Homo sapiens: one gene and its partners. The gene in region 5 interacts genetically with the main gene of each other region. Each region holds a gene or a part of one and is shown on either strand. Other genes may lie near its edges.

Region 1 (3,500 bases), on a different chromosome or scaffold from region 5:
GAGCAACTAAGAGAATCCCCATCACCTCTCAGTTCAGTTATACTGCAAGTGCTTCCTTTATAGGATCCTTTTAAAATGGTAAGCATATGTCTAGTTGTCTATTTTAAGATACTGAGAAATCTTAGCTATAACAAAGTTGTATTATCACATATATCTAGGAATAGAAAATGCCAGATTCTATCTGGAACCCTTTTTCATGAAATATTTATTAACATTTTATCTGGAGGCAAATATTCCTCCCAAGAGTCTGCAAAATCACTTAATAACATATTTTTGTATTGTGTTTTATTGGCCTCATCTATTCTTCTTTAAAGAAAGAAAAAGCTGGCATCTTGAGCTTCTTATATTTCCTCTTCAGTTCCTAACATGGTCCTGAAATACACACTGGTGGATCAGTACATGCTTATTGCTTAAATTGATTAAATGTTTAAATGGCAGATAAGTAAGAAATAGCAAAATAATAGCCATTAACATTAAAATACTGAACTACAAAATATTTACATGTTTAAAAGTGGTATCCACATTCCACATATATTTAACTTGCCAGAAATAAAACCAACAGAAATTGCACCATATTTATGGGTAGATTCTAAAAATGGGGATAGGGATGAATGATAGCGTCTTAGAAACACACCACTTGAAGAAATACCCTAGGAAGCTCAAGAAAGCAACTAAAGAAATTTGCAGGGTAAACATGCCCAATAGCTATTATTAAGAATTCTATAATTATGTTATTCAAACAGCTTACTTTGTGCACTATATGGTTTAATTACAAATAATAACCATTCATGAACGAGCTTAAAATTGTTCCTGCAAATGTATGCTATTCATTCATGTAAAAAAAATTTTTAAAGAGCTTATATGTATGTGGCACCACATTAGTCTCTGCAGAGTATAAAAACATTGGTACTTAAAAAGTCAAAACTATTGGTTGGTTTGATTAAATGCCAGATAAGTGATATTGATAAGGACTACTGGCTAGAGTAGCCAGTGAAGGAAGATGTAACAAAGACGTATAATTTAAAGTAAAACTTAAAAGATTCAAAAGTTTGGCCAAGTAAAAGCACCAAGTAAGCCACAAATTCCAGGAAAAGGGATCAGCAAAAGTAAGGACAATAAGGAAGGCATAGTCATGAGATATTGACTAGGTCAGTCTGGTTTTTAGACAGAGTACATGTTAACAGACTCTATGATGGATTTAAAAAGAAATTGAAGACAGTTTTAGCAGGCTTTGAACATTACAAGAGGGATCCATGAAAAGTTTCAGAATAAAAACTAAGATAATATTAGAAATGGTAATCTGACAGTGACAGGAAGGAGATTTTAGAGGTTTGAGGACGTGGAAGAAGAAGAATACCCATAAAGAGGATCTTGCAATAACCCTGCCTGAGGTTTCTAAGGACCAGATGATGCTTATAAAAATCTTGGGGAGTAGCTTTTAACATACCTATGCAGTCAACTTTCCTTTAAAACAAACTTATTTAACTGCTCTGTTCTAGACAAAATTACCAGACAAAAGGAATTCCTGAAAATGAAAGTATGTGTATAAAAGAAATATTATCCTGTTGTATTTTTATTTGGTTTTCATAGGTCCCTATAGAAACCCATATTCTCACATTCTTTAAGCCTACAGAGAAGGACAGGAAATAATGACAAAGATTTCAGTAAGAGTTTGCCTAGAGCAAAATAGTCACTGCCACCCATGATCTCTATTAGGCATCCCCTTGATAGTGATTGGGACCCATCCTGAAATAGAAGACTGTGCCACTTATTGCTCAAGTCACAGCTATACTTGATATAGTCACAGAGCCTGGAGAATCTGTTGTCAATTATTTTCAGTCCTAACCAGCCATGAGATAACCCCAGCAGAGGAGAGAAAACAAGCACACGCATTTTTTGAAAGCAGGTTTATGATCCCCACTTGTATTCAAAAGATTAACACTTGGATATCCACCTATACTAGAAGCACATGGGACCAGGAGTAAGTAAAGGTCAGCAGAGCAGTAAAGATTTAGCAGGTGAAACCGATTGTTTACAAGTCTAATCTTTGTGGAAAATAAAAGAGTGTTTATTGTACCATTCACTTTCTTCTCTTTCAACACATTTAAACTATGTTCGAAATGAAATATATTATAAATCTTCAATCGGTCTTGAGTCCTTTTAATTTAACTCTCAGGACTCAGAAACTGGATCTTGCATATTCCTATTGGTGTTTAGTACGCTTCAGTAACCCCTACAATATTGGAAATAATGTGATTAATAGTAATGATCCTGTGTTACTTCTCATGGGAGAGGCTTAATGATATTGCACAGGAAGTTTCATGGTGTTTATGTTAATCTTTTACGGGGGTCCACTTTCATCTCCAATTTCTATCAGGAAATGACTCTTCTTGCCAAAACAAGTTTCAAACTTCCCTTCTTTCACATGGGCCCATGAGAACACTTATCATGCCCAAGACGGCTGAGGCACATGAGGGAACTCAGCTACAACCAGAGAGCATTAAGTTTAGGTCAAAAATATTGCAGTCAAAAGGCCCAGAGGTAGCATCTTACAGAAGCCAACTAGAGTGAGGCAAAGGTGCTATAGAAATAAATTTATAGTCAGTACTTAAAGCTTTGCTTATGCTCTTGCTCAAAGAATAGAACTATGTCTTAGTTAGGGCCATGATGAAAGAGGATGGCCCAACAAAGACCATAGAAATTATCATTTCATGTCATATCTTAGGTCCAAGGACAGGCCTAGATGAATCTGAAGTATTCTCATGGATTTCCTGGTTAAAGGTCTCCATCAACTAACTGGTGATGAGGAACCCACTGTTTATCCTTTACAATCCATCTTATTTCAGCATTCATAGTACTTATTTTAAAAATGAAAAAATAAGCATTTTCTGCTGACTGGACATCTTCATAAAGCCCAGGTTAAAAAAAAACAAAAAGAAAGAAAAGAAACTCTTAAAAGTGCTATTATATACAGATAGTACTGTGGGCTCCTGTGTGACTTTTAGGGAATTCAAGATTCTATGTCTCCATAGGCCTAACCAGGTAAAGAAATCCTCTTATAGAACGATGTCTTTAAAAAGTTGCTTTATTTCTTTACTCCTCATGTGCCATAACTTATCAATGCAATCAATGATTACTCTCCAAATATAAATTAAAGATGATCATGAGGATCCCACTGTCTTTCTTTTAGAAAGAACTACACAATATGGTAATTAGGAGTGTGGATCCAAGCCATTTGTCTTCATTTCAGTTTCTCAATTCTCTTTAATGCAACATAACCTTTTATTTGTTTCCTTATTTTTTTATGTGTCAGTGGTTTTTCAAATACTTCTATGTGTGCTACAGAAAATGATATTGGTGTCAGGAGCTGCCACTAGTTTATATTATCTAATTTCCTTGCGCTGTCAGTTTCCTTACCTAAAACATAAGATGACTGGATTACATCAGTGGTTTCTAGTGCCGGACTTCTATGACACCAGTGCAGGAGAGTAGAGGCAACA
Region 2 (3,500 bases), on a different chromosome or scaffold from region 5:
CTCAAAAAAAAAGAAAAAGAAAATAAATAAATAAATAAATAATTTATGACATGATATCATCAAGCAATAAATTCTTAAACAAAAGCTTTGTGATCAGAGATCCTTTTTTGTTTGTTTGTTTTTGTTTGTTTTGAGACAGAGTTTCACTCTTGTTGCCCAGGCTGGAGTGCAATGGCTCGATCTCAGCTCACTGCAACTTCCGCCTCCCGGGTTCGAGTGATTCTCCTGCCTCAGCCTCTCAATTAGCTGTGATTACAGGCACGCATCACCACGCCCGGCTAATTTTGTATTTTTTTTAGTAGAGATGAGGTTTCACCATGTTGGTCAGGCTGGTCTGGAACTCCTGATCTCAAGTTCTCACTGTGTTGCCCAGGCTGGAGTGCAGCGGCTTGATCACTGCTCACTGCAGCCTCCGCCTCCCCAGGCTCAAGTGATCTTCCCACCTCAGCCTCCCTAGTTGCTGGGACTACAGGCACATGCCAGCACACCCAGCAAATTTTTGTATCTTTTTTGAGAGAGATGGGGTTTTTGCCATGTTGCCCAGGTTGGTCTCGAACGCCTGTGCTCAATCCTCCCACCTCAGCCTCCAAAGGGCTAAGATTACAGGTGTTAGCCACTATGCCCCGCCCAATCTGGCCTCTTCTTATAAGGGCAGATTATAAGAGGTTTGGTGAGATTAGTAGCTCATTCTTGAGAGTTCCACTTTCATGACCTAATTACGTCCCAGAGGCCCCACCTCCAAATACCATAACATTGAGGATTAGGGTTTCAATATATGAATTGGGAGGGGGAGATACACAAACATTCAATCCATGGCTGATACCATTTCTCTCAGGAAATTTTTCCTGACACCTGAAGTGCAGGATTGGTGTCCACAGTCCCCTGACCTTCACCACACGGGACTGGAAATGTCTGGGTACTTGGCCTTTCTCCCCCAATAAAATATAAACCCTGTGAGAGCAGACAGAGTTTCTGTCTTGATTCACAGCGGTGTTTCTAAGACCTTGACTGGGGCCCAGCAAAGTGCATGTACTCCAGGAACACGTGTCAGGTGTGTGCCTGTACACCTCCCTACCACATTAATAAAGACCACATTTTGCAAGATTCCTTAAAATCTCCAAGGTTACATTTTTCAGGTTACCTTGTTTCTCTAAATGTCCATATTACTTTCCCCTACCCTATCCATAACGCCGCAATTTTCCTTGAAATCTGAAATCAGTTCAACAGATAGGCCATAGTTAATGTTATTTTTATTTTATTTATTTATTGAGACGGAGTTTTGCTCTTGTTGCCCAGGCTGGAGTGCAATGGCGCGATCTCGGCTCACTGCAACCTCTGCCTCCCGGGTTCAAGCAGTTCTCCTGCCTCAGCCTCCCTAGTAACTGTGATTACAGGCGCCCGCCACCACACCCAGCTAATTTTATATTTTTAGTAGAGACAGGGTTTCACTATGTTGGCCGGGCTGATCTCCAACTCCTGACCTCAGGCAATCCACCTGCCTCAGTCTCCCAAAGTGCTGGGGTTACAGATGTGAGCCACCACGCCCGGCTTAGTTAATGTTATTTTTTAGGAACCTAATTCATCTCTCCAGCAAAGGACACATCTCTCCAGCAAAGGACACCTCTCTCCAGCAAAGGACACCTGCAGAGATGTCCCCAGTCCTTCACTTCTATGTTCGTCCCTCTGGCCATGAGGGGGCAGCCCCTGGACACACTCGGAGGAAACTGCAAGGGAAACTGCCAGAGCTGCAGGGCGTCGAGACTGAACTGTGCTACAACGTGAACTGGACAGGTTGGGCCCAGGTATTAGATTCTTGGGGGACATGCCTCGGTGCTGGGGGCAGTGTCTCAAGGTGTCCTTGCCCTGTCTCCCTGCAGCTGAGGCCCTCCCCAGTGCTGAGGAGACAAAGAAGCTGATGTGGCTGTTTGGTTGCCCCTTACTGCTGGATGATGTTGCTCGGGAGTCCTGGCTCCTTCCTGGCTCCAATGACCTGCTGCTGGAGGTCGGGCCCAGGTAAGTATCTCATCCTGCCCACCCCTTTCTTCTGCTTTCCTTTGCTTCCTCTTGTGATCCTTGGGAGATTTGCTTTTCCTTTGCTCTTTGCTACTTCCTGCCTAGGAAACCACACATGTGCTTTCCCCATTTGGGTAGATCCCTCCAAAGACCTAGCCTGCTCCAAAACATGTTCTCAAAGCAAAATAAATTAGATTCCAAGTTAAAATCAAACAGTTTTGGCCAGGCGCGGTGGCTCACGCCTGTAATCCCAGCACTTTGGGAGGCCGAGGTGGGGCAGATCACGAGATCAGGAGATTGAGACCATCCTGGCTAACACGGTGAAGCCTCGTCTCTACTAAAAATACAAAAAATTAGCCGGGTGTGGTGGCGGGCGCCTGTAGTCCCAGCTACTAGGCAGGCTGAGGCAGGAGAATGGTGTGAACCCGGGAGGCAGAGGTTGCAGTGAACCGAGATCACGCCACTGCACTCTAGCCTGGGCAACAGAGCAAGACTCTGCCTCACAGAAAGAAAAAAAAATCAAATAGTTTTGATGCTAGAGGACAGTTTTGGTTTGGTTTGAGTGTACTTTAAAAGCAGGTTTCTTGTTGCCCAGCCTGAGGCTGAAAGCCAATGGTGAGGGGATAGCGGTGGGAGGTTGTCCAGACAGCAGTAGGCAGGATCCACCCTCCCAGCTGAGGCCTGCCGGGGGTTCTCCAGTCCTAACCATCAGGCCCATTGTTCAGGCTGAACTTCTCCACCCCAACATCCACCAACATCGTGTCAGTGTGCCGCGCCACTGGGCTGGGGCCTGTGGATCGTGTGGAGACCACCCGGCGCTACCGGCTCTCGGTGAGGTGATGGGGAATCAGGAGGAGGAGATGAGCCAGAGATACAAGATTAGATCCTAAGCTCTAGAGAGAAGCAGGGACAGGTGCTCCTGGCTTTAGGCCTGCTCTGTATGGTCGTACAAGTTGTTCACTGCCTGAAAGTACCTGGTTGAGGGGTAAATGGGGCAGAAATCCAGCCTATGCTTCCTTTAATTTGTGCATCCTGGCATGGATTCATACCTGGAAAGGGCGTCTTTTTGTAATCTGAGAAAAAGTGCCATATGGTGTGGCAGTGGGCTAGCCTTGCATGACTAAGAGGGTAGGAAGGTGGACCATTTCTCTCCATTCTTAAACTCTTCACCCCTTGCCCTCTGTGTGTCTGCACCCCTAGTTTGCCCACCCCCCGTCAGCTGAGGTGGAAGCCATTGCTCTGGCTACCCTGCACGACCGGATGACAGAGCAGCACTTCCCCCATCCCATCCAGAGTTTCTCCCCTGAGAGCATGCCGGAACCCCTCAATGGCCCTATCAATATACTGGGTGAGGGCCGGCTTGCGCTGGAGAAGGCCAACCAGGAGCTTGGTGAGTAGCTGGGGAGGGAGATGTAGGGTCCAGGATAGGCCAGTAGGGGTGCTGAGATCTGGAATGTGGCTGCCTGAGTTCCATAGTCACCTCTTCC
Region 3 (3,500 bases), on a different chromosome or scaffold from region 5:
AGAGCAGCGCTCCAGCCTCTCCTCTGAGTATGGATGGAGCTCGCTTGGCCTAGAGCCTCCGAACACATCTCCTTCTGGTCACAGGGCCAGACCGCCCTGCAGAGACTGGCACCCTTCCTGTTGGGAAGGGCAGGAGGCAGCATGCCTCCCCCAGCCACCAGGGAAGCAGGCGGCCCAGGGCAGTGGTGGCTACATGGCCCCTGCTCCTGTCAGGGGCTGCAGGGACCACGCACCACGATGTTGTTCGGCTCCATAGACTCCACGGCCACCAGGAACTTGTGCTGAGCCTGCTGGTACTCCTCACTGTGCTCAAACGCAAAGAAGGAGAGGCCTTTTTTTGATTCCAGCAGCCGCATGGACAGACCTGGGAGGGGAGAGTGCTCAGGGAGGGTGTGCCGGGAGCAGGGACGTGGGCAGCTCCGAGCACAGCCCTCACCTTCGTGGTGTTCTGGATGAGGCCTCTGCGATATCGACAAACTTGACCTGAGTGTGTACTCATGGGTGTCACCAGCTCCGGACACCTTCCCAAAACACCCGCCGTCTGGTCTACACCAGGAGACGGCATCCCGTCTGCTTTAGTTTCCTATCAAGACGTGTTTGCCTCCAGAACTCGGATACAGCTCTAGCCCCACTGGCCTGGAGGGAATGTCAGGGACAAGGACACACACAGTCCACAGATCGCCAGATCTGACCACGCCGAGCACTGTCCCCAGACCACGTCTGATTGAGGAGAATGTCCGGGGTGGCTGTGGAAGGACAGGGTTGGAGTGCGGTGGCACAGGTGGCCACAGCGCCAGGCCTCTGAAGCCACAGAGCTTTGTAACGTGTGACCACCCTCTCACTTGGCTCCTCTTGTCTGACTGGGTGTATGGGACCCAGTTTCTTCTGATAAACCTGGAAAGCTCAGCCTCCCAGGACCTCCATGGACTAGGTCCCCTGTAGTGATACCTTCTTGATGGCCCTGCCCAAGGCCCCAGTCCTGCAGGAATACATGGCCATGGAACCCCTGTCTGCAGTGAGCAGGGGTTCCTGCCAGGAAGGGAAGGGGCCGTGAGCAGCGGGGTTCACCTTCTGACAGCACAGGCCTCGCTCCTAGATGTGTCCTTACAGAATGTATGCAGGCAATCTCCGGCACCCCCACAGACACAGGCGCAGGAGAAGCGGCCGTGGGAGCCATGGCAGCGCTGACAGCAGCAGCCATGCCGATCACCAAGGGCACCACACAGCTCCCTTCCCACAAGCTGTCCTTGCCCTGGCCCCTGAGGGCCCCCACAGTTCAGCCACTGCAGAGTGGAGGCCAGTGTGGAAGGCCTCCTGACACTTCCCCACACCACACAACCAAGCACCCAACACTCCATGCCTGTCTTCACTGTTGCAATTCATCTTAAAATCACTTATTAGTTTGCAATAATATACAAAATATTGCAGTTTAAAATGAACTCGATTGCTTCCATAAGGGAAAGGTCGATGGCAGAATGGTAGGAAGAACCTGCGTTAAAAGACAGTCACACAAAGACTGTGCCTGGGAGGCTCCGTGTTGAGGTACTGGGCCAGGCCTCCAGCACTCAGGCCCTCAGTGTGGCAACAAACAGTCACACACTGCACACTCCTGGAGCGCTCCTGGAGCAAAGAGTCTCGGCTCAAGAGGCACTGACGCCCCTGGTGCCCAGCGCAGGCCAGTGCACAGAACACACCCCCCCGCCGCCCTCCACCCCCAGCAGCCTCTGCAGACCCTCACCTGGTTTGCTGTACCGGGGCCAGTGCACAGACAACGCCCCCCAACCCTCCATCCCCAGCAGCATCTGCAGACCCTCACCTGGTTTGCTGTAGCGGGGCCAGGTGCTTTTAGGGGTGGTCAGCCATGTGCACTTGGGGTACACACGTTGTCTCTGCCGTGGCCTGGGGAGAACGGGACACAGGTACAGCTTTACTTCCTGTGGCGTGTGGGGACCAAGGCTTGGCTGCCTGATCCCTGCACGGGCTGTGGAAGCAAAACTGAGGGGCAGAGAAGGCATGTGGGGCAGGGTGGGGACGCATTAAGGACAGGATGCAAACAAGCGTCAGCAACTGCTGTGGGACGGGTGCAGCAGGGAGGGCCCCATAGAGAGAAAGAAACAATTCTGGCTGGGCACGGGGGCTCACACCTGTAATCCCAGCACTTTGAGAGGCCAAGATGGGAGAATTTCTTGAACCCAGGAGTTCGAGACTGGCCTGGGCAAGACAGCAAAACCCCATTTCTACAAAGGGTTTTAAAAATTAGCCTGGCGTGATGGCCTGCACCTGTGATCCCAGCACTCCAGCCTGGACGACAGAGCAAGGCCCTGTCTCAAGAGGAAAATAAAAAAAGAAAACGAAAAGAAAGAGAACAACGTACTAATATCCACATGCCCATCACTCAACTTAAGAAACCAACCATCTCTGAGGTAACAGCAGCTCCATGCCTTTTCCATGCTGCCCCACCTGCCCAGCTCAGATACCAGCTGACCAGTGCTTAGAGTGGGCCTGACCCCTGTGGCAGAGACCCCCAAATAACAGAGGTCAGGGCACTCTGCCTGAGCACACAGGCACCAGACAGGTGGGGCGTGGCAGCCGCGGCAGCACAGACAGCAGCAGCCATGCCCACGGTCACCATCAGCACGGTGCAGCTCCCTTCCCACGGGGCCATCCCTGCCCTGGCCCCGGGCTCCCCACAGTTCAGCCACCGCAGAGTGGAGGCCAGTGTGGTGGGCCCTCCTGACATGAAGGTGGCCCCAGCCTGCTTCTCCTGCCTGTAGCACACGCCCAGGCCTAGGAGAGTCAGCCCTTCAGCACTCTCCTGGGCCAGATGTACAGAATCCCAGGGATGGCCTGACCTGCGGTGAGCTATCCCACAAAACAAGTAAGGAAGCCTCCAGAACAGACCCAACGAGGCAGCCTGGGCAGATGCCAGGAGGGGGCAGGGGACAGGAGCCTGGAGGAGCTCTGAAGGCTGGCAGGCGCCCTGAGCAATGGGAGGAGTGTGCTGAAGTGCGGGGGCGATGAGCTGACCGGGCTGTCGTAGTAGGAAGTCAAGGACCCAAGAGAAAGCAGTGCCTGTTATTCTGAGCTTCTGAGAGAACCACCAGAAGGAGAAATGGAAACAGGCCAGGTCTTTGTCTTGGAGGAGCAGGACAAGGAATGAATAAAAAGGAAACTGTGGCTTCTCCATGTAAGTCTTTTGGTAGGACTTAAATTTTTAAAGAAATAAATAAACAAAAAAGTTTAATAATACTATAAAAATAATAAAGGCAATTATTGTCAACTAATTACTACGAGTAATCAGTATTAACAGTTATAATACTAATTACTATTAATAATTATAATTTGCAGAAATAAAACCATGCAAAAATATAAAGAAATGACCAAGACAGACCAAGCAGATGCAAACAAAGGGTGGGACGAGGTGGAACCCTCAGCTCAGAGAAATGCAGATGACAAAGTGACATTTTAAAGTCTATTTTTAATTAATATTCCCGAAGAAA
Region 4 (3,500 bases), on a different chromosome or scaffold from region 5:
ATGAAAGAGGTAACATCACTACAGATTCTAACAATATTAAAAGGATAATAACAAGTTAACAGGAAGAAAAAAGAAAACAAAAGAGAAGTAAAAACAGGAGTGAAAACATTTTAATAACAAAAAAAAAAGGATAGTAAGAAAATACTATGAACAACTTTATGTCAGCCAATTCAACTACTTAGATCAGGGGTGTCCAATCTTTTGGCTTCCCTGGGCCACTTTGGAAGAAGAATTGTCTTGGGCCACTAATACTAACGACAGCTGATGAGCTGAAAAAAAAAGAAAAGGTCTGTGCATAAATCTCATGATGTTTTAAGAAAGTTTACGAATTTGTGCTGGGCCGCATTCAAAGCATCCTGGGTTGCATGCAGCTTGCAGGCCACAGGTTGGACAAGCTTGACTTAGATGAAATGGGCAAAATCTGTGAAAGATACAAACTAAAAAAGCTCATCCAAAAAATAAATAAATAAATAAATAGGTAACCTCAATAGTTCTAGATCAACTAAAGAAACTTAATTTGCAGCTTAAAGCCTTCCCACAAAACTCCAAGTCCAGATGGCCTCACTGGTAAATTCTATCAAACATTTTAGGAAGAAACAATACTAACTCTACACAAACTCTTCCAAAAAACTGAAGGAACTCAATTTGAGGTCAACATTATTCTGACATCTCAACTACACATTACAAGAATGCTACAAATATCTTTTGTGAACAGAGACACAATTCTCAAGAATTCTCAAGAAAACTTTAGCAAACTTTAGCAAACTTGAATTCAACGTATATAAAAATAATACAACATGATCAAGTGAGGTTTATCCAAGGAATGCAAGGTGGCTTTAGCATTTAAAGACCGATAATTCACCATATGACTAGACCAAAAAATGGAAACCACAGAATGAAGTAAAACTATAAAACTTCTCTAAGAAAACACAGGAGACCTTGGCTTTGACAAAGGATTCCTTAAATACAAAAAGCAGAAATATAAAGGGAAAAAATTAATCAGACTTCATTAAAATTTTTAAATGTTTGCTCCCAAGACACTGTTAAGAAGTAAAAAGACAAGCCACAGATCAAGAGAAAATATTTGCAAAAGATATATCAAACTAAGGATTTCTATCTAGAATATGTAACAAACTCTACATTTAAGTAAGACAACCGAAGATAAAAATGAGCAAAAGATCTGAACAGATGCCTCACCCTGCCCGTGATGATATACAGAAAGCAAATAAGCATCTGAAGGAAATGCAAGTTAAAACCACAATAAGGTAACAGTACACTGGACTACCTAAAACTAAAAGGGCTAACTATATCAAGTGTTGGTGAGGAAGTTGAGCAACTGGAACCCTGATATGCTGCTGATGCCAATGTAAAATGGCACAACCAGTTTGAAAAAAAAAGTCTGGCAGGTTTTTCTTTTTAAGTAATCACACACCTAATATACAATCCAACCATTTCACTCCTAATGTTTTTCCCCCAAACAAATGCAAGCATACGTCCCTACAATGACTTGTACAGAGATGTTCATAGGTTTCTTTTTCAGAAAGCCAAAAACTGGAAACAATCCCAATGTTCATCAATCATCTGAATAAATAAATAAAATGTGGTGTATCTACACACAGAATACTATCCAAAAATTAAAAGACGAGGCAGGCAGATACTTGAGGTCAGGAGTTCAAGACCAGCCTGGCCAACATGGTGAAACTCCATCTCTACTAAAAATACAAAAATTAGCCGGGTGTGGTGGCATGTGCCTGTAATCCCAGCTGCTTGGGAGGCTGAGGCAGGAGAATTGCTTGAACCCAGAAGGTGGAGGTTGCAGTGAGCCGAGATCGCACCACTGCACTCCAGCCTGGGCGACAGAGCGAGACTCCATCTCAAAAAAAAATAAAAACAAAAAAGAAATAAACTACTGACACATACAACAACGGAAGAATTTCAAAATAAGTATACTGAATGAAAGTAACTGAGGCAAAAAATGAGTATATACTATATAATCTCATTTATAAAAAATTATAGAAAATGAAAACTTATCATACGGTCAGAAAGCAAACCAGTCAGTGGTTGGCAAAAGACAGGTGGCAGGGAGGGATAGTAGAAAGGAACTACAAAAGGGCAGAAGGAATGTTTTAGAGGTCACGTTCACTGTCTTGGTTGTGCTGGTTTCACAGATGTATGCACTGTATTAAATTATATACTTTAAGCCCAGGACTTTGAGGCTGCAGTGAGCCATGATTGCACACTACATTCCAGCCTGGTGACAGAGCAAGACCTCAACTCGAAAAAAGTTAAAAGAAAATTGTACACTTTAATTACCTGCAGTTTATTCTATGTCAAGTATACCTCAACAAAGCTGCAAAAACACCAAAGGTTGGGGGAGGTTTCAAGGAAAGCCAGAGAATGAGAGAGAAAATAAAAATAAAAATACATGAGTCTAAGAGGACCAGTATCCTGAGTCTGGAAAGGGAAGAAAAAAAGGTCAAGAAATCATCAAACAGCATTCCCTAAAACCGAAGAACGTAAGACTCCAGACTCAAAGAGTGAGCCACGTACTGATCAAAATGAATCTGAATTTAAAATAACATCTATACCTGGGTACCTAATAATGAAAGTTTACACTATCAAGAAAAAGATCTTTTTAAAATCTAGGAAGGAAAACTGATCACAAAAGAATGAAAGCATATGAGCATAAAAATTAAGTCCTTCTGGTTTCCACACTAGCTCTGACATTTATCAGCTGAGTGACCTTGGGTATGATACGCGACCCTGCTGTGTTTCCATTTTCTCATCTGAAATAATAATAAACATAACAATAATCATTATTTTTCTGAGATGGAGTCTCGCTCTGTCACCAGGCTGGAGTGCAGTGGCGGGATCTCGGCTCACTGCAATGTCTGTCTCCCGGGTGCAAGTGATTCTCCTGCCTCAGCCTCCCAAGTAGCTGGGACTACAGGCGCGCCACCATGCGCAGCTAATTTTTGTATTTTTAGTAGAGATGGGGTTTCACCATGTTAGCCAGGATGGTCTGGATCTCTTGACCTCGTGATCCACCCACCTCAGCCTCCCAAAGTGCTGGGATTACAGTCGTGAGCCACCGCACCCGGCCAATAAACATAGTAATTATTATAACATAATAACAATATTGGTTGTCTCCAAATAACGTGCTTCTATTATTTGTATGTAATAAAAATAATTACAACAGTAGAAGTCATGTGGTTGTGAGGATCAAACAAGTTATAATAAAGTTCTTAAAACAATGGTAAATGCTATATAACTGCTGGTTAAATAAATACATCACATTAACACCGAACTTGTCATCAACACTACTAGATGAGAGAGTACAAAAGAACAATTTCTTTCAAAGTTCTGAGGGAACCTAATATTAAAACTGGAATTCCTGGCCAGGTGCGGTGGCTCATGCCTGTAATCCCAGCACTTTGGGAGGCAGGGGCTGGTGGATCACCTGAGGTCAGGAGTTCAAGATCAGCTTGGCCAACATGGTG
Region 5 (3,500 bases):
ACTGTGAACACTTTCTGTGTAGCCTTCCAGAAAAACAATTTATATATACACATGTGTGGGCTGAGCGTGGTGACTCACGCCTGTAATCCCAGCATTTTGGGAGGCCAAGGTGGGAGGATTGCTTGAGCCCAGGAGTTCAAGACCAGCCTGGGCAACATAGCGACATTATGTCTCTAAAAAAAATAAAAAGGGCCGGGGGTGGGGGTGGGAATCAGACAGATGGTGGCTTGAGCCTGTAGTCGCAGCTATTCAGGAGGCTGAGGCTGGAGGATCACTTGAGCCCAGAAGTTCAAGGCCGTGGTGAGCTATGATCACACCACTGCACTCCAGCCTGGGCAACATAGTAAGACCCTGTCTCTAAAACAAAACAAAACAAACAAACAAACAAACAAACAAAAAGTGGGGGAAAAAGTTAGCCAGACATGGTAGCTACAGCCCATATTCCCAGCTACTCAGGAGGCTGAAGTGAGAGGATCACTTGAGCCCAGGAGTTTGAGGCTGCCGTGAGCTATAATCACGCCACTGCACTCCAGCCTGGGGTAACAGAGCAAGACGCTGTCTCTCAAAAGAAAAAAAAAAAAAGAAAAGCATATGTGTGTATGTGTGTGAATCTATATCTATGTTTGAAAAAAGCATGCAACATTTCATATAGGATGCTATCATTTGGGTTTCAAAAGGAGAGCACACATATATATTTGCTGGTACGCACAGAATATCTCTAGAAACTGCTACCACTTGCCTCTGGAGAAGGGAAAACATTTTTTGGTAGCTATTATATTTTGAGTTACATGCATACATATTTTCCTTTTCAATTACACACACGTTATCCATTTGCTTAGGAAGCTCTTTTTTTTTTTTTTTTTTTTTTTTTTTTTAAGACAGAGTCTCGCTCTGTCACCCAGGCTGGAGTGCAGTGGCGCGATCTCGGCTCACTGCAAGCTCCGCCCTCCGGGTTCACGCCATTCTCCCGCCTCAGCCTCCCAAGTAGCTGGGACTACAGGCACCAGCCACCACACCCGGCTAATTTTTTGTATTTTTTTCGTAGAGACGGGGTTTCACCACATTAGCCAGGATGGTCTCGATTTCCTGACCTCGTGATCCACCCGCCTCGGCCTCCCAAAGTGCTGGGATTGCAGGCGTGAGCCACCACGCCCGGCCAGGAAGCTATTTCTTAAGGTACATTTTCTTCCTAAATTCCTGTGTCTCGCAAAGTCTGAATTACAGTCATGGAGTTCCTTTTTTAAACAACAGTGGCCCCGTGGGGGCCTCAGTTCCCCAAGTCACTCCTGGCCTCCGCAACAGACACACAGGCCTCGGAATGCTGCCTCACCTTGTTCACCTGGGACAGCGGGGTCCTCACGGCTCCCGCAGGCAGCCGGCCCCTGCTGCTGTCTTCAAACAGCCTCCCGGGGGACCGCTCTCTCCGCGTGCTGAGCATCCGGCCGGGGGACTTCTCTCGCTCCAGGGGGCGGCCAGGAGACTTGTCCCTGCGCAGCTCGGTCCGCCCCTCGCGGTAGCGGTGGGGTGTGCTTGGCTCTCGCGGGTGGCTGGGGCCTTCGGGCGGCGCTGGGCTGGAGGCCACGCGCTTGGTGATGTGCTCGTTGTACGTGGGTGGGCCTCGCTTGTTGGGGCTGCTGGCGACACAAGAGGAACGTAGGGAGCTGCGAGGCCACAACCCCAGAGGGGCATTTTCCTTCTTACCTGAGCAACCCCCTCCTTGACCCAGCCTCACCACTGATTATCAAGAGATTAGACCTGGAGTTCTTTGGACTTTGCCTGCATTTGATTTTGGTAGCAAAGACAGGGAAGAGAGCAAAGATGGCAACAAAAGACAACCCACCTTCCTCAGTGCAGGCTTTCATTTACTGAGCACCTACTGTGTGCCAGGCCTGTGCTAAGTTCTTCATCTGCCATCTCTCATTATCTCATTAAATCATCACAGCAGCTCCTGAGCTATGAACAAGCATGACCCTCACTGTACAGGCAAGAAAATGGGGACAGACAGGAGTTAGGTGACTTGCCTGAGCTAATGAGTGGTAGAGCTGGGATTCCAATAAAGACCAGTTTGATAGGCCAGGCGCAGTGGCGCACACCTGTAATCCCAGCACTTTGGGAGGCCGAGGCAGGTAGATCACGAGGTCAGGAGATCGAGGCCAGCCTGGCCAACATGGTGAAACCCCGTCTCTACTAAAAATACAAAAATTAGCCGGGCGTGTTGGCGTGTGCCTGTAGTCCCAGCTACTCAGGAGGCTGAGGCAGGAGAATTGCTTGAACTGGGGAGGCGGAGGTTGCAGTGAGCCAAGATCGGACCACTGCACTCCAGCCTAAGTGACAGAGCAAGACTCCGTCTCAAAAAAAAAAAAAAAAAAAAAAGACCAGTTTGATGTCATAAGCCCCATATAATATCCTACTGACCTACTATTTCCCAGAGCCTAGAAGGCACAGAAGGAAGTCATCAACTAGGAGGTCAGCCTACTAAGACCCAGAAGTCAGGGACCCACAAAGGCCCTCAGTGCAAGGAAGCAGTTTGGAGAAACCCTGTACTGATCACTGTTAACTGCCATGTCTGTCCCACTCCTGGGCCTCGTGTTTGGTCACCTCTGCCCCCATGTGGCTTTCCAAGAGTCTCTGACACCTGATGCAAATGCAGATGCTCAGAAGGTGGATGGTTCTCAGTCATGACAATAAGACGACCGAGAGGTGTAGGGATCAGGCCTGATAGAGTCAGGAAACTGAGCAGGGCAGACAAAGTAAAGCGGGCTCAGAAAACGTCCCAGGCCTCAAAGGTTGATAATTAGTAACCAAGCAGTTGAAAACACTGCGGCCTTTTTGTACAACCCAACCCAATCCTCCACCCACTCCTGGCCTGGATATTTCAAATGAAGATTTCAGCAGACCCAGGGGCCAAACTCCCTCTCTGAAGATGTAGTAAGACCTACAAACACAGAGAGAACTGAAATGTGGCCTTCTGAGTCAATTCTTTCCCACCCTTGATCAGCTCTAAAAGTACTAGGGTCCCTATTATCTCAGCATAATTTGTGCTTGGAAAAGGCCCTACTTAAAATGGAGGAAAAAAATTACAGTGAATATTACTTGAAAACATATTTTGTTTGATTGAGGCTTTATCTTGGAATATAAACTTATTTTATGCTAGATATTTTTAGTATTTAAATTACAATGCAATTACATGCTGATTCCAAAAATGAACCAAGCATGAATCACAGAATGATTTGTTTTGTGCTAATTGTCTCAACAAAATTGCTGCTAACATGCTCTGACACCAACGTTGGACACATTGGACTTTTGCAGTGGATCCTAAAGAAGGCTCTTCAAAAATATTTGAAAAAGCCGGGCACAGTGATGCATGCCTGTAGTCCTAGCTATTAGGAAGGCTAAGGAAGGAGAATTGCTTGAGCCCAGGAGTTCAAGACCAGCCCGGGCAATATGGCAAGACCCCGCTTCTAAAAAACTAAAACTAAAAATTAAAACAAGAAAAGTGT
Region 6 (3,500 bases), on a different chromosome or scaffold from region 5:
GGCTAAAATTTTAGTGAATCAGATGTGGAAAACAGTTGGATTAACATTGAGATCAAATGAGAAAGGAGCAAATAAGGAAAGAGGTATTACAAACCAAGAGTAAAAAAGGGAAAACAAAATAACAAAAGCAAAAACTATTTAAAAAGAATAAAGGAAGACGTGATAATGAAGTAAATTTAAAAAGTACGGAATAATAAAAAGAAATTGCAAAAAATAACTTTTGAAAATAAACATACTAATAACTTGACAATAAAGTGAAATGTGTAAGACAAACGTATCTGTGTCATTATTTAGGAGTAGTGAAAAGTACTCTTAAATAATAATTTGGTATCTAGCAGGCCTGGATTTGAATCTACTTTAACTTGCTAGCTATGTGACCTTGGGCAAGCAAAGAAACTCCTCATAACCATTGTAATAATACCAGCAAAATGCCTTACACTTACGGCTCAAAAAATGAAGGAAATGAGAGAAAAAAGTATAGATTACTATATGGAAGTCAAATTTCTAGTGACTTTTCTAATCCAAACATGAATTGTTACAGTACTTGAAATAAACTTTATGAGAACTGAGTGACTACATTGCTTCAGATAGTTTTATACTGCTAGGTCAACGCTGCCTGACAGTAATAAGAATAGGATGTGAGATTCAATATGCTCATTCTATCTCAAACTCTGTCACACATACAATGACTGCTATTTACCTTCCTCCTGAGCCATCTGGGAAAAAACCAACCAACCAACCAACCAAACAAAAGAAAAACCCACCAGGTAGGAGTCAGTTAGTTCTGCTAACTAACTAACCAAAAACCTTAATTGTATGGCCATCAGCACCCTAGCCCTTTGTCATGAAAGCTACCAATAAGGTGGAAATTTAAAATATGAGATATTTTATTATACATGTTTTATTAAACCCTATATGTGCAGAAATGATTGTCCATTTTCCTTCTTAACTTGCTTTTGTAAGACTTATTAAGTAGAAAATATAAATCTCAAGCTCCTTAAATGTGATTTTGAGGAACTGAGACCAAAACAATTTTTTGCTGTGGAACCAGATCCTTGAATGCACTACAGGAAAATATTATTTGATATGAAATTTTTTTGGTACACACAATTTTTCAAAAATATATCTCTCTCCACAAAGTTAATTCAAATTGTAGAATTCTTCCAAGTCACAGATGGAGTTTTCAAGGCTCTGGGTACTTACCTTTGAGTTCCACATCCTTTATCTCTGGAGCTCTTAACTGAGGGAACATGGACCATTAGGTCATGAACAGACTTTGTAGTCTTTGAACAGCCTGAAACAGTATGTGATACTTGATGTGCATGTACACAGGAACATTTTTCTAGAGTAATGGCACATACCTTTCATCAGATTTTCAAAGGTTTCTCAAAATGCTCAAGAACCATTGTTAGATATTTAAATAACCAGAGTGTACAGTGTCCAAATATTTCCAAATTTTGACACTTGTAAGATGTCTTAATTAAAACAAGCCATGAAGTTCAGCGTCACAATAACCAGAAAAGCACTTGTGAGAGTAGTTCTATGTCTTTACTTCCTAGTGGTTTACACACTCTTTAACCCATATGGCAATCTGGCTTCTGTCTCCAGTGCTCTGGAATTACTTCTGCCTGTATGATTAAGTTCCTCATTGTTAAATTCGAAAATACATTCTTTGGTATTTATTTGACCTCTTGGTGGTAATATAGCGTAAGAGCACAGACTCTGGAGCCAAACTGCCTAGGTTCAAATCTTAGCTCTATTACTTTCTAACTCTGTGACTTTGGGCAAATGACTTAACTCTCTCATGCCTCAAAGCAGAATCCTTTGTAAGGTTTATTTATATAGTGGTGTAAAGAGTACTTACTTCAAAAGCTTTGGTCAGTGTGAGAAATAAGCTCCTAACAAAGAAAGTGTTATGTAATAGTTATTATCTGGTACCTCTGATCACAACATTTTTGAAAATCACTTGAAATCTGCCTAAGTTTCATTCTGCCTTTGATGGCTCCTTATTTTCATCTCCCTACTTCAGGCTTCCTCCCTAATATATCTTTTATGCCAATATTATGATCACTTGAAACTATAAATCTGATGCCATCCTTGGCCACTACCATTAAGATGGTCTAAACTCCTCAGCATGATAGACAAGTCCCTTTATGATAGTGTACCCATCTAGTTCTCATTCCTCAAGTCTCCTCTGTTGTCTATGCTTACCCTATGGGCTAAGCTGAATCAAGCTGTTACATTTCCAAAATATGCCTCACTGTCTTTATTCATGCCTTTGCACATGCCATTGACTCTTCCTAGAATGCCCCATTCTCCTTCTCTAGAAAGTCTTCTCTTAACATACTTCTTCCCAAAATAAATTAGGTGTCCTTTCTTAATATGCCTCCAATAACCCCATACAGTATTTATCCCATTCTATTTTAGATGCCAGTTTGGTTGATGATACATTTCATCTAGTCAGATCTTCCCACTGCCTCTTATAAAGAAAACCAGGAGCCATATTATGATATTCTTGTTCTCTAATTTTTCTGCTGCCCTGATCTTAAACCACTTTCTTCTCCCTTTGTTGACAATTACCCCACCCCTTATTTCTTAATTAGCCCAACAAGATTAGATAGAAATGTATCTACAAAGGATATATGTATATAAATTAACTAGATAACAAAACTTCACACTGAAGTGAACATTCTACAAGTATTTATTTCATTGCTGACCATTAGGTTGCAGCATGCAACTCTCAACAATGAGCTGCCCCTCTCCACTCCTATAGAAGCTCCAAATACTATGGTACCACTATGTAGGTTTTCAGCCTTTCAAAGGCTTTTATTATTAACATCATCATTACTTCAGCAGGAGCCTTTTAGGGACTTAAAAGCACTGATTATCTATAAAAAGTAACTTCATATTTCATGCACAAAATTCCCAATTGGCAGATTTAGGTCCATAAAAGAAAGGAAAAAAATTATTCTAGTTATATAAATTATCAGGAATAAAATAGCATTTCTCCTTGCCTTGTTATAAGGAAATAATATATTTTTCCTTACCAGGAATCAGGATAGTATCTTTGATGATCCCTCAGGGTTATAAAATTGCTTACTGGTTAAAGTTTTTTGCCAAAGATATTAAGAAATAAAAAGTTCGCTCATTTTCCTGTGCAATTTAAAGAAATATTTGCAGTATGTACAGGAATTTTAAGTTATATTGCAGACCCTGGCAATAATATTTAAAAGGCCTATTTTCCCCATTAAAAAATTCTACCTCAGAAGGTAAAAGGAAATCTCCATCATCCCTGAGCAGAAAAGGAAAAAATCATGGGTACTTTAATTAGTTAATAGAAACCACTGTAAATGAGTTATCTATCTCCAGAACATTCTCAGAGAATTTACACGAACTAAAACAGGAATGAAGTGCTCTCAGAGACTTTTTCTCAGGTAAATGTATTTAGTAGTTTGAGTAGTTGATCTGCAAAAACTTTAACTTTAATTAACTACATAGAT
Region 7 (4,264 bases), on a different chromosome or scaffold from region 5:
GGTTCAGGTCAGACATAGCTCACTGCAGCCCCACCCTCCTGTGCTCAAGCGATCCTCCCATTTCAGCCTCCCGAGTAGCTGGAACTACAGGTGTGAGCCACTATGCCTGGCTAATTTTATTTTTTGGTAGAGACAGGGTCTTGCTATGTGCCCAGGCTGGTCTTGAACTCCTGGACTCAAGCAATCCTCTCGCCTCGACCTCCCAAAGCACTGGGATTACAGCAATGAGCCACCATGCCCAGCCTAAAGTATTTTAGAGTCTGGTTATATTAGAAGGTTGCGATTGGAAAAGTCTTACAAGTGATGGCAGATTGAACAGATTAAAAACTAGGCCCAGTAGGTCAGGAGCGGTGGCTCACGCCTGTAATCCCAGCACTTTGGGAGGCCAAGGTGGGTGGATCCCCTCAGGTCAGGAGTTCGAGACCAGCCTGACGTGGTGAACCCTATCTCTGCCGAAAATATAAAAATTAGCTGGGCGTGACAGCGTGCCCCTGTAATCCCAGCTACTTGGGAGGCTGAGGCAGGAGAATCACTTGAACGTGGGAGGCAGAGGTTGCAGTGAGCCAAGATCGCGCCATTGCACTCCAGCCTGAGCGACAGAGCAAGACTCCATCTCAAAACAACAACAACAACAACAAACAAAAAACTAGGCCCAGCAAGGGGAGAGACTTGCTGGGGTCCTGCAGCAGTGCAGTGGGTGAGACTGGCCAGCTTGGGCTGGGCTGGCTTTGAACTCAGGTCCATGTAACGCATTGATGATTGTCCTGACCAGCACCTTTTGTGAAACTAGTGCAGGGGGCCTTTATCATTCTGCATCTGGCAAGCCCTGCCACTCCTTCTTACAAGCATGGTGTTTATGTAATTTTCTTTTTTGTGGAATGGGGTCTTCATGTTGCCCAGGCTGGAGTGCGATGGCACAGTGGAGTGCAAATGCACAATCACTGCAACCTCCAACTCCTGGGCTCAAGTGATCCTCCTACCTCAGCCTCTCAATTAACTAGCACTACTGGTGCACACCACCATACCTGTCTAATTTTTTGTATTTTTTTGTAGAGATGGAGTCTCCCTATGTTGCCAGGCTGGTCTAGAACTCCTGGCCTCAAGCAATCCTCCAGCCTTGGCCTCCCAAAGTGTTGGGATTGCAGGCGTAAGCCTCCATGCCCTGCCTTACGTGCATTAATTACAATACACAGAATTACAAAACAAAAAGCAATGATATTGAAATGGCATCAAAATGCTTTAAAAACAAATTTCTGCTATACTAGTATAGATGCTTATTTTCAATGCATGAAATAACAAGACCCTATCATAATTTCTTTTCTTTTCTTTTTTTTTTTTTGAGACAGTCTCTCACTCTGTCCTCAGGCGTGACCTCGGCTCACTGCAATTTCCGCCTCCCGGATTCAAGCGATTCTCCTGCCTCAGCCTCCCCTGGAGCTGGGACTACAGACGCATGCCACCAAGCCCAGCTAATTTTTGTATTTTTAGTAGAGACAGGGTTTCACCATGTTGGCCAGGATGGTCTGGATCTTTTGACCTTGTGATCCGCCCGCCTCGGCCTCCCGAAGTGCTGGGATTACAGCCGTGAGCCACCGCGCCCGGCCGACTCTATCATAATTTCAAAGCAGTAATAAATGTAAGTGACAGCTTAAGATACCACCTTGTAGTTGCTGCACAAACTGGGTTTTTTTGCGTCTCACTCTGTCACCAGGCTGGAGTGGGGTGGTACAATCTCGGCTCAATGCAACCTCTGCCTCCCGGGTTTAAGCCATGCTCATGCCTCAGCCTCCCAAGTAGCTGGGATTACAGGAACGCGCCACTACTCCAGGCCAATTTTTATATTTTCAGTAGGGACGGGGTTTTGCCATCCTGTCCAGGCTGGTCTCGAACTCCTGACCTCACGTGATCCTCTCGCCTCAGACTCCCAAAGTGCTGAGGTTACAGGTGTGAGCCACCATGCCTGGCCCTGCACAAACTGTTATCTGGAACTATCATTTACACTCACCCTCACAGTTTCAGGCACTGCTAAGGCTGCTCCAGCAATCAGGAAAGGAAATGCTATACTTCACATAGAGAAAAATAGGGGTGCATTTTGTTCCTACACAAGCTCATTACCCCACCCTGGTTAAAAAAAACCCTGAATTAGGCTGTATAGTGGCTCATGCCTGCAATTCCAGCACTTTGGGAGGCCCAGGCAGGAGGATCGCTTTGGGCTTGGGGCCAGGAGTTCGAGACCAGCCTGGGCAACATAGCAAGACCCGCCACCCGCCCCCCCAACCCCGCCGTCTCTACAAAAATTAAAAATAAAATTTTAAAAATTAGCCAAGTGTGGTGGTGCAGCGTCTGTAGTTCCAGCTACTCGGGAGGCTGAGGTGGGAGGATCGCTTGAGTCTGAGAAGTTGACTGCAGTGAGCTATGATCGTACCCCTGTACTCCAGCCTGGGCCACAGAGCGAGAAAAAACCCTGAATTAGAGACACGCTGCGGCCGTCCTTCCTCGGAGAGACCCGCCCCTCCTCAGAGGCCCACCCGGACCCTCAGGCCAACGCCGACCCCTCTCCACACGGACTTCTGCAGCCTCAGTTTCCCTCCTCAGACGCCCCCGGCTCCAATCCCGGCTCGGGCACTTCCTTCCCCTCTGGCGTGTCTTGGCCCGGGTCCCGGGGCTCCTGCGAGGATCACACAGGAACTCACTTGAAGTGTCCGGCGCAGTGCACTCCGACGGGGAGCCCTGCCCGGTCCCCGCGGCGAACCAGTCTCTTCCTCGGGTCCCCCTCTCCCCAAGCGCGCAGGCGCAATCCGCGTCGCCGACTCACGCGGCTGGTTTCAGGTTTCTGGCGAGGCCGGTGTTCGGCTGGCGGCTAGCTGGGACTAGCGGAACGGCGGAGTCTCGATTGGCAGTGCCTGGACAGGCGCAAGGGCCGGCGCGGGCTCCGGGCGCTCCCGGCATCCCTCGGGCGGCGGCGGCGGCGGCGGCGAGGCGAAGCGAAGGAGGAGTGTGTGCGGCGGGGCCGGCGGCGGGTAAAGGCGAGAAGGCTGCAGGAGACCGAGGGGGAGCCGGGCCGGTGGGGCCGCCGCCGCCGCCATGCAGGAAATCATCGCCAGCGTGGACCACATCAAGTTTGACTTGGAGATCGCGGTGGAGCAGCAGCTGGGGGCGCAGCCGCTGCCCTTCCCCGGCATGGACAGTGAGCGCGGGGCCCGGGCGGGAGGGCAAGAGCGACTCGAACCCGGGACCCGCTCCTCTGTGATCCCGGGACTCCCTCGCCTCGGTCCTGAGACCTCCCCCGGCTTCCTCTGGATCCTGGGACCCCTCCCCTTTGGTCGCAGGACTCCTCCCTCTAGGTCTTGAGAGTCCCTCCCACCTCCTCCGGGTCCTGGGATCCTCCCCTTTAGTTACCGAACTCCCTCATCTGTGGTCCCGAGACTCTTCCCACTCCATCCTGAGACCTCCTCTTCTGGATCCCGGGACGCTCCCCTTGGTTTCAGGACTCCTGACTCCCAGGCCCCCATTTCCACCGTCTGGGGACTCCTTTTACCCTCACTCGGACTCAGGAGTTCACTGCCTCGGATCTTTGGCCCTCTGCGGCTGTTCAAAGGTAATCTGTAGGAGGGTAGACCTTGTCTGTTCGCTTAATTCTTGAATAAGGGTGGGTTATCCTGGATTGGAACTCTCCCTCAACACTCTCCCAACTGCAGGAGAGTACTAGGATATCACACCCGCTACGTTGAGCGTCTCTTCTTGATTTCATCAAAACTAGGCGGTTGGAGGAGATGTGCTGAGGGAAGGACCACCTTTCTGTAGGAGACCCCAGCTAGACTCTCAAACTCCCTTCTAGGACTCACTCTCCTGGGAGCTCATCCCTAGTTTTTGGCCCGTCCCTACTTTTTTCTGGACCCCAACTCTGAGTTATTCATCACACCCAGCAGCTGGTGTGGACCCTTGGCCTGAACTCCCTTCACTGCTCCCCTTCATATGGTGGCTCCTGGCTTCCCACCTCCTACTCGGTGGGATATCTTGTACTTTAAAAGAAACCAGTAGTTTTCTTTGTGTCTTCTTTCCTATCTGGACATACTTGAAATCTAATGCTATAACCTTAAAGTTTGGGGGCTTGTGGAAGTCACTGAGTTCAATCCACAGATGGGGAAACTGAGACCCAAGCGGGGGAAGGGACTTGCTGACAATCACTCAGTGCATAGCAGAGGCGGGCAAGCTCTCCAGTGTTGTGTGCTGTCGCCCACAACTACCAGCGGGGTCTCCCACC

The links.
Region 1: changes in CIT (region 5) and ERBB4 together harm fitness more than expected from each alone (negative genetic interaction), as found in Homo sapiens cells (one large-scale study listed by BioGRID).
Region 2: changes in CIT (region 5) and PFAS together harm fitness more than expected from each alone (negative genetic interaction), as found in Homo sapiens cells (one large-scale study listed by BioGRID).
Region 3: changes in CIT (region 5) and TCF25 together harm fitness more than expected from each alone (negative genetic interaction), as found in Homo sapiens cells (one large-scale study listed by BioGRID).
Region 4: changes in CIT (region 5) and XRN2 together harm fitness more than expected from each alone (negative genetic interaction), as found in Homo sapiens cells (one large-scale study listed by BioGRID).
Region 6: changes in CIT (region 5) and SEC22B together harm fitness more than expected from each alone (negative genetic interaction), as found in Homo sapiens cells (one large-scale study listed by BioGRID).
Region 7: changes in CIT (region 5) and PTCD1 together harm fitness more than expected from each alone (negative genetic interaction), as found in Homo sapiens cells (one large-scale study listed by BioGRID).

Annotation. Positions count from the first base shown.
Region 1 is NC_000002.12:212,528,803-212,532,302, forward strand, and holds part of ERBB4 (receptor tyrosine-protein kinase erbB-4 isoform JM-a/CYT-1 precursor), read right to left. Parts: intron 1-3,500. UniProt on the Homo sapiens protein: Tyrosine-protein kinase that plays an essential role as cell surface receptor for neuregulins and EGF family members and regulates development of the heart, the central nervous system and the mammary gland, gene transcription, cell proliferation, differentiation, migration and apoptosis.
Region 2 is NC_000017.11:8,252,289-8,255,788, forward strand, and holds part of PFAS (phosphoribosylformylglycinamidine synthase), read left to right. Parts: intron 1-1,570; 5' UTR 1,571-1,649; coding exon 1,650-1,791; intron 1,792-1,877; coding exon 1,878-2,013; intron 2,014-2,738; coding exon 2,739-2,844; intron 2,845-3,213; coding exon 3,214-3,403; intron 3,404-3,500. UniProt on the Homo sapiens protein: Phosphoribosylformylglycinamidine synthase involved in the purines biosynthetic pathway. Catalyzes the ATP-dependent conversion of formylglycinamide ribonucleotide (FGAR) and glutamine to yield formylglycinamidine ribonucleotide (FGAM) and glutamate.
Region 3 is NC_000016.10:89,890,592-89,894,091, reverse strand, and holds part of TCF25 (ribosome quality control complex subunit TCF25), read right to left. Parts: intron 1,900-3,500; coding exon 1,817-1,899; intron 365-1,816; coding exon 234-364; intron 1-233. UniProt on the Homo sapiens protein: Component of the ribosome quality control complex (RQC), a ribosome-associated complex that mediates ubiquitination and extraction of incompletely synthesized nascent chains for proteasomal degradation.
Region 4 is NC_000020.11:21,306,331-21,309,830, reverse strand, and holds part of XRN2 (5'-3' exoribonuclease 2), read right to left. Parts: intron 1-3,500. UniProt on the Homo sapiens protein: Possesses 5'->3' exoribonuclease activity. May promote the termination of transcription by RNA polymerase II.
Region 5 is NC_000012.12:119,688,821-119,692,320, forward strand, and holds part of CIT (citron Rho-interacting kinase), read right to left. Parts: intron 1,635-3,500; coding exon 1,331-1,634; intron 1-1,330. UniProt on the Homo sapiens protein: Plays a role in cytokinesis. Required for KIF14 localization to the central spindle and midbody. Putative RHO/RAC effector that binds to the GTP-bound forms of RHO and RAC1. It probably binds p21 with a tighter specificity in vivo.
Region 6 is NC_000001.11:120,152,521-120,156,020, forward strand, and holds part of SEC22B (vesicle-trafficking protein SEC22b), read right to left. Parts: 3' UTR 1-3,500. UniProt on the Homo sapiens protein: SNARE involved in targeting and fusion of ER-derived transport vesicles with the Golgi complex as well as Golgi-derived retrograde transport vesicles with the ER.
Region 7 is NC_000007.14:99,435,999-99,440,262, forward strand, and holds the start of PTCD1 (pentatricopeptide repeat-containing protein 1, mitochondrial), read right to left. Parts: upstream 2,801-4,264; 5' UTR 2,694-2,800; intron 1-2,693. Other genes in the region: CPSF4 (cleavage and polyadenylation specificity factor subunit 4), read left to right, coding at 3,085-3,187. UniProt on the Homo sapiens protein: Mitochondrial protein implicated in negative regulation of leucine tRNA levels, as well as negative regulation of mitochondria-encoded proteins and COX activity. Also affects the 3'-processing of mitochondrial tRNAs.